Linked DNA regions of Homo sapiens. The protein of the gene in region 1 interacts with the protein of each later gene in a biochemical or structural test. Each region holds a gene or a part of one and is shown on either strand. Other genes may lie near its edges.

Region 1 (7,569 bases):
GGGCCTCTGTGAGGTGATTATATCACGAAGGTGGAGTCCTAATGGATGAGATTAGTGTCCTTATAAAAGAAGCCCCAGAGAGCTGCCCTGCCCGTACCACCATGTGAGGACACAGCAAGAAGGTGCCATCTATGACCAGAAGGCCCTCACCAGACACAGAATCTGCCGGTGCCTTAATCTTGGATTTCCCAGCCTCCAGAATTGTGAGAAATCAAGTTCTCCTGTTGAAAAGCTGTCCAGTTCATGGCATTTTGCTATGGCAGCCCAAATGGCCTACAACACAACAATTACCCACATGGCTTACTCCCTAACTTCTCTCAGAGGCCTGCTCTGACCATATAACATTTATATTTACTTACTTGGCTGTTTACTGTCTGTTTCTCCCTACTGAATTATAAGCTTAGGGGTTTTGTTTTATATAAAGGTCAACTCCCAATGCTTAAAATCCAATAGGCACCAAACAAATCTCTGTTGCGTGAACAAGAAGAGATTAGTGCACAGAGCCAGGTCACCACTTTCAGCAGCCTACCTACTTTGTTCTGGTCCCTCATGTTTGGCTAGTCACCAAATGGCTCTGGCTTGAAAACTACACATGAAAGACCCTGGACAGGTTGCATTTGTCTCCACCAAATTTCTGGTCCCTGAAAGTCATCTAACAAAGTTAAGATTCAATGTAAAGAAAAAAACTTGTTCCATTCAGTTTCTCTGCTTGGACAGAATAAAATTCCTCCTGGCATTCTTTCCAATTTTAATACAGCTGGATAGAGAAACACAGGTTAAAACAATTTTCTGGATCCTTCTTTTCGGATTCTACCTTGACAAAGAATCTTCTTGATTATCTATGCTTCTTTATTTTCTCATCTTTGCCCAGAGAGTCAAGTGCTCTGGTTGTTCACACTGCCTAATTAACTATGCAAATCAAGTTACATGAAATTATAAATGAAAATTCTATGAGTGTTCACATGCAAAGCTAGATTACATGATCTAAATTTTAAACTGCTACTAAATTTCTGTTCTCTTAAAGGCACTTAATTTTTCATGAATAACTGGATCTTCAAGATTTCTGGATAGATTATGTTTAAGACTCTCTTTACGTACAGAATGTAATCAATGATAAATTCTAATTATTCCCAGTATTAAAGTAGTTCTTAAAAGTCATCAGAGCTTCACTAATTATTTTTACACATACTCCATCATTTGCTTTGAAAATGAGATATATAGTGTATCTATAAGCAGGGAGGGGCACCAGGCAACAGATCATAAATATAGTTATTACAAAGTTGCTTGCACATATGAATCTGAAGTGTGAAATGCCTATACTTTATAACTCTTACAAAAATAAAAAATTGTTTCACTCATGGTACCCTGGCAACCCAGCAATTTTATATTCACTGATGGAATGAAAATGCAATGTCTGAAAATTAAAATTCAGTAAAAGTTCAATAGTTCACCCACATTTATGATAACCTATGGGGGAAGGGGATGTGCATTTCATATCTAGTCATGTGAAGTGTGCCTTGAATGGCAACTATCGTAAACATTAATTTTTTACTCCCATAACTATTCAAAGCATTGTACGAAGGGCTCAATCAGATCGTGTGAAGTGTACATTTTTCACCCCATAAGCCTGAAATCAGCGAAATGTTATCTTCTCCTTCGCACAAGGCTTCAGGTAGAGACTGGATATCTACCCTCACTCAACCACCCTCAATGGTAGAACTAAAAAGCAACAAATGGATTTTACAAGTTAATGTCTTAAGCTATAGAAGAAAACGAAATGAAACAAAAGGAAAAGGGGAAAAAAAAACCCATTCCTACATTACTGACCGGGGGCTTCTCTTCCAATCGCATCCCAAGTCCTTTGCTGCTCAAAAAACTTAACACCTCCAACCTGGTTAGACGCTTCAAATTCCTCCAGATTTCTAAACTGCGAAAGCGAAACAAACATCTACCTAACAGGCTAAAAAGATGACGAAGTACAAAGTAAGAAAAACTTTTGCAACACAGACACTGGCCACAGTGCATTCCTACTTTCCCAGAAGGGAAGAGGAGGGGAGGCAGCTGAAATAAGAATAAGGATGAGGTAAGTATCGGTGGAAGATGACAGTTTAGGGTGAGAAGCGGCTGCTCTTTCTCACATTCAGGGGGACAGGAAGGCAAAAGGTAGGTGTTAAATTAAAAAAAAAAAAAAGTCTACCCACACCACTCTTCGTTCTTCCTCCAGCACAGCTGGAGGGGGAAGGCTCTTCCCCAGAACGCCGGAGCAGAGAGAAGGCATCGCCACCCTAGGCTAGTGGCGCCGTCCAGCCTGTCACTGGGGCTGGGACTAGAAAAGTTGAAGCAGGAGTAAAGATCTGGGGAAGACGGACACGTCCTTCCAAGGCTGAGGACCCCGGTGACCCGAGCTGAGGGCAGCCAGAGCCCGGGGTGACCAAGCCCTGCCCTACGTGTCCGGCTGTCTCTGAGGAACCGGGTCGCCTGACGCCTGCCCTGGCCCCTCTCCGCCCGGCCCCGCGCGCCTCCTTGCTTACCTGCTGCACCCCGAGGAACTGGTAGAAGTTGAGCTGCACCTCCTCCACTAAGTCAAACAACTCCAGGTCTCCGCTCTCCCAGCCGCGCGCCGGCGCCACGGCGGCCAGCAGCAGCAGCAGCAGCCACAGCAGCGGCGTCCGCGGCGGCGGCGGCGGGAACGGCACCAGCCCGAGCTGGCGGCGTCCAGGAAGCTGCGCCGGCTGGGAGCAAGGAGCCGTCATCGCGCTGGGCTCGGAAAGGTCACCCGCCGCGCAGCTCCGTTGGCCGAGAGCTGGGACGTGGCGGGCGGCGCTGGCTGTGGGGAACAGCGCCTGTCAGTGAAAAGCGCGGGCAGGCGCACCGGAGCGGCCCGCCAGGTGGCTGGCCCCAGACAGAGCGCGGAGGCGGCGGGAGCCGGCTGCCGGACGGGCGGGTGGGTAGGCGGGCGGGGCCGCAGCCAGCGCTACGTTCCGAAGACCCTCGCCCCCAGGCCTACACACAGCTGTAGAGGCAGCGCCCGGCGCCTGGGCTGCACAGTGGGTGAGGCTTCCCTTCGCCTCAGCCTATCCCAGGCCTCGCTTCCGGTGACATCATGTCTCCTAGCAACCGCGGGAAGGGGGCGTGGCCGGAAGCCTGGACGCCTGGCGCCCCAGATCTGGGCCTGGGTGAAATGCCTCTCAATCACTGGCGCGCACGGAGCAGCTGTACCTGCGCCCACATGGGCTGAGAGACAGGGACGGTTATAGCCATCTCGCGTCCATCTGGAACGCCCCACGTGGACTTCCCCTGAAATAGCTACTGTCTTCCTCTCCCCTAGCTATCGAACACTAAAAGCATATTTGAAGCCTGATTAATTGATTATGGCTTCCATGCATTTAATTAGTCCATCAGCAAAGAAGACAGGACAAGTTGAACCAGGTTCTAAAAGGGGCAAATCTAGTAAGTAGAGAGAGGTAGAGCAGAAAAGGAATTGAAACCAAAACAAAAAGTATACTTCTAATTATGAATTAAGATTTACAGGCATAATACCATAAAATGACCTGGTAGAATTAACAGTTAATAATGGTGACTCAATCATAGTTGGAGGAGAAATGTAGTTTATCCACCTTAGCCCACCTCCAGTTGGGGTTCCTTTGAAAACAGACCTCAATTGAGATGTTTCTGTTTTAAAAGACAGGCTAAAAACCTCCTCTCCCATAACAATGTCTCACCTTCTAGTCTTGCATTGCTTCTGTTCAAGCTCTTTTCAAGTTATTTTCTCCACCACAATTCTCTTGTGTGGACTTTATTATTGTGTGCTTAGCACAATGCATAGCACATGAGAGCACTCAATTAGTTGAACTGAATCCTGTGACTACCTCCCTACCACCATTCCCCCTACCACAGATTTTTAGTTTATTTATTTATTTATTTAGAGACGGAGTTTTGCTCTTGTTGCACAGGCTGGAGTGCAATGACACCATCTCGGCTCACTGCAACCTCTGCCTCCCACGTTCAAGCAATTCTCCTGGCTCAGCCTCCCGAGTAGCTAGGATTACAGACTCCTGCCACCATGCCTGGCTAATTTTTTGTATTTTTAGTAGAGACGGGGTTTCACCGTGTAGGCCAGATTGGTCTCAAACTCCTGACCTCACATGATGTGATCTACCCACCTCAGCCTCCCAAACTGCTGGGATTACAGGCATGAGCCACCACCCCCAGCCTAGTTTATTTTTGGTTATATCAGTTTTCTTAAAGTGAACGTCATCTTTACCAAGTCCCTAAATTAGGTTACTGTTTATTCAATGAACAAAACATCGAAATAAGATGAAATTAATGATCTTAAGCACTACTTTTACATATTATAGTAACATTCATCTTTTCTCCTAATTTGATCATTAGATTAAGTGCAATAAAACCTTTGAAACTGGTGCCATATTGCCACAAATCTGGGATTCTTACCCCGATCTTGTAGCAGACAGCCTAGTATTTCCCTTTTGAGTTTTACCTTTATGTTGTCTGAGAACCTCGGGGACTTACTCCATCTAAAGATAGCCCATCCTCTTTCTAAGGCCATGCTGAAACAGAATTGGATTCTATTAATAATACTTCTCATGGACATAAGGTATTACTCAAAAATTCATGCTGCCCAGCTCCAATGACACTTGTCCACCCTGAGATGATCTTCTTGCTTGTCCAGGTTCCTGCAAAGACCACAGTGATATTCATATTTAGACTTCTAGCTTGGCCTCTTTACCTATTCAGTCATTGTCCCAAAAATTACAGTGCAATTGAATAAATCTTTTGCTGAGGTCTGAACTAAGGGAGTGACAGTATCCACTGTTTTCTTCCCTGGTGACATGTACTAATTCTGGGCATAGACTCATCCAGCTTGGCCTGGGCAGAGGGAGTTTACACAGAAAAAGAGAAACCAGTGAGATGTTTAACCATCATGTGAGCTGTGAAATGGATTGGAAATATAGAGGAGCCCCAAACATATAGCCAGTTTTCCCACAGGACATTCGCTGAGTTCTGGGGTGGTGCAGGAGGCTGAGCAGCTGGGCGTGATAGGCAGAGTAAAATTACCCCATATTCTACTGCATAGAAAGCTAATTCTGCTTAGAAGGATCCTGCCTCAAATACACAAGCATTCTCCCCCTTCAAGACATTTACACTATTTTTGAAGTTGTATGAGAAGGAGGCTGAAGATCTACGTTTAAAACCTCTCAAAGGCAGAACTGAATCTCAGAGCAGAGGAAACAGCAGCTGTCCAGGCTCTTGATCAAAAGCCCAGAGGAATCACACATGAAGAAGAGAGAGAAACCACAAGAGAACTATCTTACTGAAACCGCACCCCAATCCCAACCCAGCTCATCCTTGATTAGACAGAGATAATCAGAACATCATCCTATTTGTCTATGTTTATCCCTAGAAGAAAATAACATCATCTATATTGTCTATAGATCTTTAATATAAAAGTCTAACATTTGTAAAAAAAAATTATGAGGTGTGAGAAGAGCAGGAAAATTTGACCAACAATCAAGAAAAAAAAAATAATAGAAGATCCACAGATAAGCCAACTATTGAAGTTTAGATAAGAACTTTAAAATAACTATTATGAAATAAAGCCATAGGTTATAAAATAGAAGAAAACATGAACAAGATGGATTAAAATATGCAGAATTTTAAGAGTATTAAAATCCATAAAAAAGAATCAATGGAAAATATTTAACTGAAAAATGTAATTTCTGAAAGGAATATTGCAATGGATCAGTTTAATAGCAACCTGGACACAGCAGAACAGAGGGTTAGTGAATTTGGAGACTGAGCAAGAAAAAATACCTAAACTCAAGCACAGAGAGAAAAACAAATGGAAAAAATAGAACACAGCTTAATAGGCATGTGTACAATGAATAAACCCAGGATAGGTATAACTGGAGCCTTAGAAAAAGAGGAGACAGAGAATGAAGCAGAAGCAATATTTGAAGATATAATAGCCAAGAATTTTACAAAAGTAATGAAAGACATAAAACCACAGATGAAAAAAATATCTCAAAATGAATCCTAGACCTCAATGTATGAGTTAATGCTACCAAACTCTTGTAAGAAAAAAAGGGAGTAAATCTTAGTGACCTTGGGTTAGCCAGTGGTTTCTTATATATGACACAGAAACATAAATGACAGAAGAAAAAAAATAGATAAATTGGACTGCACAGAAATTAAACGTATGCTGCAAACAATATTATCAACAAAGTAAAAAGACAAGAGAATAGGAGACAATATTTGTAAACCACATACTTGATAGGGTACTTAGATCCAGAATTTGTCAAAGATTCTTACAACTCAACAACTAAAACAACCCCCCTTTTTTTGTTAATGGGCAAACAAGTTGAATAGACATTTCTTCAAAAATATGGAAATGACCAATAATCACATGAAAAGATGCTCAACATCTGTAGTCATCAGGGAAATGCAGATCAAGACTACAATGACATGCTACTTCTCACCAAGTAGGATGGCTATAATCAAAAAGATAGACAAGAAAAAGTGTTGAACATGTGGAGAAATTGGAACCCTCTCACATTACCGCTAGGAACTCAAAATGATGGAGCCCCTTAGGAAAACAATTTGGCAGTTCCTCCAAAAGCTAAATGTAGAGTTACTATATTACCCAACAATTCCACTTCTAGAGAAAAGAAACATATGGCCACACAAAAACTTGTACAAAAATGTTCATAGCAGCATTATTCACAATAATCAAAAAGTTTGTAAACAACCCAAATGCTCATCAACTGAAGAAGGAATAAACAAAGTGTGGTATATCTATGCAGTGGAATATTATTCTGCAATATAATGAAATGAAGTGTGGATATATGCTGTGACATCGATGAGTTTTGAAAACATGCCATGTGAAAGAAGCCAGTCACAAAAAAATCACCTATTGTATAATTCCAGTTATATGATATGTCCAGAATAGGCAAACTTACAAAGACAGAAAGTAGGTTAGTAGTTACTTAGGGATAGGGAGTAGATAAGGTTACAGATTAACTGCTAATGACTGTAAGATTTCTTTTAGGGGATGTGAAAATGTTCTAAAATTGGATTATGGCAATGATTGTATAACCCGGTTTAGTATATTAAATACTAAAAAAACACTGACTTAAATATACTTTAAATAGGTGAATTGTGTAGTACGTCAATTGTATCTCACTAAGGCTGTTAAAACAGAAAGAAAAAAACAACCACTCACAAATACAATACACTCAACAAACCCCAAAATGGATAAATGCAACAAAGCAAAGCAAATCTAAGTATATCATCGCCAAACTGCAGCAAAGCTTGTGGGATGTAGTGAAGGCAGTAACTTCAAAGAACATCTGTGGCACGGCACTGTGGCTCACGCCTGTAATCCTAGCACTTTGGGAGGCTGAGGTGGGCAGATCACTTGAGATCAGGAGTTTGAGACCAGCCTGGCCAGCATGGCAAAACCCCATCTTTACCAAAATTACCAAAAAAAATTAGCTGGGCATGATGGCGTGCGCCTGAAATCCTAGCTACTTTGGAGGCTGAGTCACGAGA
Region 2 (7,746 bases), on another chromosome or scaffold:
TGAAAGGAGAGCTCCTTCTTTCTGTTTGCCGGACAAGTTTAAATCAGAGTGAAAAGCACCACACTGACTCAGACCAGAGGCTGATGGGCTCCACTGAATTATGTCTTCCAAGGACAAACTGTAATTTGGAAAAACCCCACAGGAGACGGCGATGCCTATGGGCAGGGTGGGGCCTTGATGCTTATGCTGCCCCCATGCTGTGGGCACTCTCCTCTACAGTGGTTTGCCTAATAACACCATTGTTGAGTCAGGACAGAAATGGCCCTGAGATCCACCTCTTCTGAACCCCAAGCCAGGCACACTCACCTTTAAAGAAGATGTAATTCACCAGGACCATCATTGTCTGCGAGTCAAGGTCCTTGATCAGATCTGTGATTTTCCCCCTAGTTCCATTCTTCACGTAGTCGTTGATGAGCTTCTTAGCTGCAGCTGAGTCCTGAAAGTCAGTGGCAAAGGCCTCGGAGCCATACAGCCTCTTGGCATCCTCCGTGAACCTGTCCAGCAGACTGAGTTGCTCTTTGACAAACATGGCATTTCCCATACTCAGCTGCAGCTCATCGCTGGACTGATTGAGGGTGCGCAGGAGGTGCTGGAAGCTCTGGTGAATTTCTGCCTCAGAAGTCTCCGTGAGGTTGAACTTGAGGCCTTTGAGAATCTCTGTCAGGGTGGTATTATGGGCCCCCAGAGACAGGAAGGCCAAGGCGGTGGAGATGCTCAGTGGGGAGAAGATGACATTCTTATCAGGGGCCTTCAGGACTAACTGCTTGTACAGGCTGAAAGCGAAGTCCACGTTGGCGGAGGCTAATCCGAGGTCCACGTGTGTCCCTCGGTCTTGGTTCTCCTGGGTCAGATTCTCCTCGTCAAGTGGGCTGTTAGGGTGGCAGAGGACAGCAGGGCAGAACCCAGCCGCCAAGAGCCCCAGAGCCAGGAGAGGTAACATTCTCTCCATTCTCAACTCTGAAAAGCAAAGCTCCTTTAAGTCTCAGAGGGCCAGATGGAGCCCCGACCACCTCCCACTGCCCTCCACCCAGCCTGCGTCCTGGTCCCTGTCCTGCTGCCTCTTGCTAGCTTTGGAGCCTCCCTCAGGTAGGTGCTCTCTGGGGCACCCGACACACATCACTCTGCTTCATTTCACCCTTTGAGGTAGGTACCATAATTGTTGCCATTTTCTTGCAGTGGAAAAGCCGGGCACAGAGCGGTGAGGGGGCTTGCCCAAGATCATACAGCAAACAGGTAAAGGAGCCCAGTGGGCAGCCAGGTTTGCCTGGCTCCTCGGTCTGTAAGCTGATGGGGGGTCCGAGGTTCAGTCCAATCAGAATGCCTGCTCCTCTCCTGCTTGGTGAGCAGATCTCATCCTAGGGGATTAGAAAGCAGGGGCTCCCTTCCTTCATTCTCCCAACTGCCACCAAAGTAGAACCCAGGGATGAAGGAGCCCTGGGCAGAGATAGAGGCCACAGTGACTCTCCCAGCCTCTAGATGTCACGTGGTGTGGCCTCCACAGGCCTCCACGATGTGATGCTGGGTGGCAGTGAGGGTCGACTGAGAGAGGGAAATGAAAGTCCCTGGTACAGTGTCTGGAGCCTCGATGGCCCTGATAATGGTTGGCAGCAAGACCAAAGAAAGGCAAATGTTCTTCTCTGCCCCTGCCAGGTTGCCACGTGGTGTCTGTGTCCACCATAAGCCTGGAAGGGCCTCTTAGTGGGGAGAAGGCAGAGAGGGCTTTGGAGTCTCCCAGACTTGGACTGGGATTTTATTTTGGCCACTTTTGATTGCTGTGTACTGGCAAGCAGGTGACTGTACATCTCTCAACCTGTTTCCGTCTCTGCACAACCTGTTAAGTGGCTCAGGTGAGATAAATGATGAAGGCACCTGGTTCATATTAGACGTACCGAGCAGTCACCACCTCCCATACTACCCCTTTCCTGAAACTACAAGCCAGAGAAGAGCCATGAGCTACTGCACAAGAGACCCTGGAAGGGCTGAGTTCCAAGCCGGTGACCGCAGCAAACAAGATTATTCACCTTCAGCCTCCGCCCACTCAGTCCTAGAATTCAGAAGAGAAAAGGGGCAGCTTGGGTGCTGGGGAGAAGAGTGGGGAAGAGAGGCGATTGGAAGGGAGGGGAGGGGAGAGGGGTAGAGAGAGGAGAAGAAAAGGGGAAGAGAGAGTGGAAGGAAGGGAAGGAAGGAAAGGAAGGGAAGGAGGGGAAGGAGGGGAAGGAGGGGAAGGAGGGGAGGCCAGTGGAAATGCCTTTGGCCAAGCCCAGGGACAGAGGCACCTTGTTTGCTTCAACTGTTCACTCTCAGGCTGATGCAATCATTTCTCTGGATAAATGTTAGACAATATTTTTCTCCAGAATTATTTCAGGGGCAAAGGCTTGTCTTTTCTGTTTGGGCAAGTTGGAGGGCTGGCTGTTTCCCAGCAGTTTGTCTTTTCTGTTGCTGGACAGAGACACAGCCCATCTGTCGACTTGGCCAGGGGTCCTTTTGGGGAAGTGGAGCTCCCGAGGCAGCCCCATGGAGACCCTGAAATCATGGTGAGGCCTGTGGCCTCTGCTCAGAGGGACCTGCTGCAATAATCACATCTGCCACATGTTCTGAGAGCTGCACCCTGCTCCAGGCAAGGGGACAGCACCTCTTCCCTGAGGGTCAGATGCACAGCTGACTCAAATCCGAATCTGTAAGTATCAAGGCAGAAATGACCATAGAGGCCCCAGGGCACCTCCACCCTTTGCAGGTGTGAAAACCCAGACACAGAGGATGCCTCTAAAAAAGGCACAGGGAATCAGTGGCAGCCAAGAACAGACCCCTGGCCCCTAACACCTGAGTACACCTCCTCCTGGCCTCTGCTTACCCCTCACACTCCACACACTCCAGGCTGCTGCCTAAAACTCTCCTGGAAAAACAGATTCCTCCGCTCCCAGGATGTAAAACATCATGGATTACCTGCCTCAGGGAGCTGGATGTAGCTGGTGGATTCCAAAGCCGTCTGTCTGGAGTAGTGGATTTTCATGAATGCTGAGGCTTATTTATTCCTGCAGAGAACTCCTCCCCCTGCTTGGGAAATGCCAGGACAACCAAGTGTTCTGTTCTCGGACTGGAAATGACCAGATGATAATTTCTGGTAATACGGGCTTGTTAGACCTACTCAAATAACCTGGTTATGGGACTAGCTCTAATCTCTTCCTCCAAAGGTCAAAAAAGCACACAGAAAAAATCCTTTGTTGTATTAGTTTTTATCTGCTTATTAAATACTCATTGAAGAACATGGAAAAACTCAGAGAATGTAAAGAAGGACTTTGGAAAATATCCCCCAGCACTTTACTACCCAGAGAAGACCCCAGCTAACATTTTGGTATATTTCTTTTTTATTTCTTTTTATTTTTTATTTTTATTTTGAGACAGAGTCTTGCTTTGTTGCCCAGGCTGGAGTGCAGTGGCGTGATCTCAGCTCACTGCAACCTCTGACTCCCGGGTTCAAGCAACTTTCTGCCTCAGCCTCCCGAGTAGCTGGGACTACAGGCACACACCACCACGCCCAGCTAATTTTTGTATTTTTCGTAGAGACAGGGTTTCACCTTGTTGGTCGGACTGGTCTTGAACTCCTGACCTCGTGATCTGCCCACCTCAGCCTCCCAAAGTGCTGGGATTACAGGCATGAGCCACCGCACCCAGCCACATTTTGGTGTATTTCTAAAGCACTTTTCTTTGGTGTCTCTGTGTGTGTGTGTGTGTGTGGCTGCATGTGTGTCTGTGTGTCTGTGTGATGTGAATGTCCATATACAAACCTAGATATATTTTTAAAATACAGGACTCTATTTTTCTGTGGATCAGTTTGCATTTTTGGCACCCCTTCACCAACCCCAGAGAGTAGGGCACCTAGAGAGGGGTGTGGAGGGGAGCTTTCGGGGAGCACAGGTGTTGTGAGGAACCCCTTGTCCTCAGGCTCTGTTTCTCTGTGGGGGCCTCCTCAGCCTTGGCCTCTGTCCTGCTGAGCCTCTGCGATTGGTTCACCCCAACAAGTGGTTGTCCCTCCTCCCCGGCCTTCAGGTATCCTTGGGCCTCTCTCTTAGCTAGTCTGGGGTCTTTCTTTGGCTCATGAAAAAGGAAAAAAAAAATCCTGGGCGGGACTAGTGGCTCATGCTGGTAATCCCAGCATCTTGGGAGGCTGACGTGGGCAGACCACCTGAGGTCAGGAGTCCATGACCAGCTTGGCCAACATGGCGAAACCCCATCTTTACTAAAAATACAAAAAAAAAAAAAACAAACAAACTAGCAGGGCATCATGGCGCATGCCTGTAACCCAGCTACTTGGGAGGCGAGGCTGAGGCAGGAGAATCGCTTGAACCCAGGAGGCAGAGGTTGCAGTGAGCCAAGATCACGCCACTGCACTCCAGCCTGGGCAACACAGAGAGACTCTGTCTCAAAAAAAAAAAAATCCTTCCTCTTGATTCCTCATGGTCACAGTCCCCATCCGGGGTAGCCCTGACAGGCCTCTCTAGAGGGCATGCTTTGGAGGCCACCAGACCAGTGGCGAGGTTCTAGCTCTGGCATGAGCTGACCTGGCTTGAATCTCTGATGTCTGACTCACCAACTGACTCACTTCAAACAAATCATGGGAAATCTCTACAGCTTAATTTCCTCATGTCTAAGATGCAAGGCAATATTCCCTGACAGAGTGGTAATCAAGATGAAATGAAATGATATTAAATGTACACTCTACGAGGACAGGATTTTTTGTTTGTCTGTTGCGATAGTGCTGCATCTTTAGAGGACTTACATATTTGTTGACTGTAAGGCACTAAGATGACCAATAACTGTCTGGGCCCATCTTTCTTAAATGACTTTCAGGCTCCCAGTTTTGGAATTGAATGTGTGTGTGTGTGTGTGTGTGTGTGTGTGTGTGTGTGTGTGTGTCTTTATATATATATCTCTCTCTATGTGTGTGTGTGTATATATATACATATATACGTATACACATATATAATATATTATATATTTTTATATATATATTATATATATATATATATATATATAGAGAGAGAGAGAGAGAGAGAGAGAGAGAGACTCGCTTTGTCACCCAGGCTGGAATGTAGTGGCGCAATCATTGCTCGTTGCTTACTGAAGACTCTGACTCCTGGACTCAAGATATCCTGCCGCCTCGACTCAAGATATCCTGCCGCCTCAGCCTTCTGAGTAGCTGGAACCATAGGTGCACAACGCCATGCCTGGCTAATTTTTAAATTTTTATTTTTTTGTAGAGGCAGGGTTTCATTGTGTTGTCCAGGCTAGTCTTGAAATCCTGGCCTCAAGGGATCCTCCCACCTCAGCCTCCCAAAGTGCTGGAATTACAGGTGTGAGCCACTGTACCTGGCCAATACATATGTTTAAGTTACACAGAATCCTAAAGAAATAGTTGCTAAAATGAGACTGAAGTTCATTTCCCTCTCCTGCAGGTCCAGCTGGAGGCAGTGGGTTGATATGGTGCCTCCACGTTGTCAGAAACCACGTCCTCCTGTCTGGTTGCTCAGCTGCCCCTCCACGTCTGTTTGTCTAGGCTAAGATGGCTCACTGCTATGTCCACCTTCCAGTCCATAGAAAGGGCCACAGGGGAAGGGAAGGGCACACCCTTTCTTTTGAAAGGAATGCCTTGAACATTGCCTGTCATTCCCACTTGTGTTGTGTTGCCTGGAGTTTTGTCCCATGGCCATACCTAGCTACAAAGGAGGCTGTGCAGTGCAGTCAAGATTCTAGGTAGCCACCTCCCAGCTAAAAATTCAGAGTTCCATTACCATGAGAGAGACAAAGAGAGTGGACATTGGGGATGACTAGTCATCTTGCCTCAGAGCATTATCTGAGTGTTCTCAAGTTCTCCGGCCTCAGAGCATCATTTTCCTTCTTTCTTTCTTTTCTTAAATTATACTTTAAGTTGTGGGGTACATGTGCACAACGTGCAGGTTTTTTACATAGGTATACATGTGCCATATTGGTTTGCTGCACCCATCAACTTGTCATTTACATTAGGTATTTCTCCTAATGCTATCCCTCTGCCAGCCCCCAACCCCCCAACAGGCCCCAATGTGTGATAGTCCCCTCCCTGTGTCCATATGTTTTCGTTGTTCAGCTCCCACTTATGAGTGAGAACATGTGGTGTTTGGTTTCCTGTTCCTGTATTAGTTTGCTGAGAATGATGGTTTCCAGCTTCATCCATGTCCCTGAAAAGGACATGAACTCATCCTTTTTTATGGCTGCATAGTATTCCATGGTGTATATGTGCCATATTTTCTTTATCCAGTCTATTATTGGTGGACATTTGGGTTGGTTCCAAGTCTTTGCTATTGTGAATGGTGCCACAATAAACATATGTGTGCATGTGTCTTTATAGTAGCATGATGTATAATCCTTTGGGTATATATCCAGTAATGGGATTGCTGGGTCAAATTGTATTTCTAGTTCTACATCCTTGAGGAATTGCCACACTGTCTTCCACAAAGGTTGAACTAATTTACAGACCCACCAACAGTGTAAAAGCATTTCTATTTCTCTGCATACTCTCCAGCATCTGTTGTTTCCTGACTTTTTAATGATCCCCATTCTAACTGGTATGAGATGGTATCTCATTGTGGTTTTGATTTGCATTTCTCTAAGGACCAGTGATGATGAGCATTTTTTCATATGTCTGTTGGCTTCATAAATGTCTTCATTTGAGAAGTGTCTGTTCATCTCCTTCGCCCACTTTTTGATGGGATTGTTTGTTTTTTTCTTGTAAATTTGCTTAAGTTCCTTGTAGATTCTGGATATTAGCCCTTTGTCAGATGGATAGATTGCAAAAATTTTCTCCCATTCTGTAGGTTACCTGTTCACTCTGATGATAGTTTCTTTTGCTGTGCAGAAGCTCTTTAGTTTAATTAGATCCCATTTGTCAATTTTGGCTTTTGTTGCCATTGCTTTTGGTGTTTTAGTCATGAAGTCTTTGCCTATGCCTATGTCCTGAATGGTATTGCCTAAGTTTTCTTCTAGGGTTTTTATGGTTTTAGGTCTTACATTTAAGTCTTTAATCCATCTTGAGTTAATTTTTGTATAAGGTGTAAGGAAGGGATCCAGCTTCAGCTTTCTACATATGGCTAGCCAGTTTTCCCAGCACCATTTATTAAATAGGGAATCCTTTTCCCATTTCTTGTTTTTGTCAGGTTTGTCAAAGATCAGATGGTTGTAGATGTGTGGTGTTATTTCTGAGGCCTCTGTTCTGTTCCATTGTTCTATATATCTGTTTTGGTACCAGTACCATACTGTTTTGGTTACTGAAGCCTTGTAATATAGTTTGAAGTCAGGTAGTGTTATACCTCCAGCTTGGTTCTTTTGGCTTAGGATTGTCTTGGCTATGCAGGCTCTTTTTTGGTTCCATATGAAATTTAAAGTAGTTTTTTCCAATTCTGTGAAGAAAGTCAGTGGTAGCTTGATGGAGATAGCATTGCATCTATAAATTACTTTGGGCAGTATGGCCATTTTCATGATATTGATTCTTATTATCCATGAGCATGGAATGTTCTTCCATTTGTTTGTGTCCTCTTTTATTTCGTTGAGTAGTGGTTTGTAGTTCTCCTTGAAGAGGTCCTTCACATCCCTTGTAAGTTGGATTCCTAGGTATTTTATTCTCTTTGTAGCAATTGTGAATGGGAGCTCACTCATGATTTGGCTCTCTGTTTGTCTGTTATTGTTGTATAGGAATGCGTGTGATTTTTGCACATT

Evidence for each region. Proteins that work in one complex are often made in the same cells at the same time.
Region 2: the proteins of DNAJC1 (region 1) and SERPINA3 form a complex in vitro, tested with the Homo sapiens proteins (one study listed by BioGRID).

Annotation. Positions count from the first base shown.
Region 1 is NC_000010.11:22,000,682-22,008,250, forward strand, and holds the start of DNAJC1 (dnaJ homolog subfamily C member 1 precursor), read right to left. Parts: upstream 3,050-7,569; 5' UTR 2,754-3,049; coding exon 2,532-2,753; intron 1-2,531. UniProt on the Homo sapiens protein: May modulate protein synthesis.
Region 2 is NC_000014.9:94,607,645-94,615,390, reverse strand, and holds the start of SERPINA3 (alpha-1-antichymotrypsin precursor), read right to left. Parts: upstream 3,001-7,746; 5' UTR 2,944-3,000; exon of another isoform or gene 2,852-2,943; intron 2,045-2,851; exon of another isoform or gene 2,022-2,044; intron 1,356-2,021; exon of another isoform or gene 1,152-1,355; intron 958-1,151; 5' UTR 950-957; coding exon 307-949; intron 1-306. UniProt on the Homo sapiens protein: Although its physiological function is unclear, it can inhibit neutrophil cathepsin G and mast cell chymase, both of which can convert angiotensin-1 to the active angiotensin-2.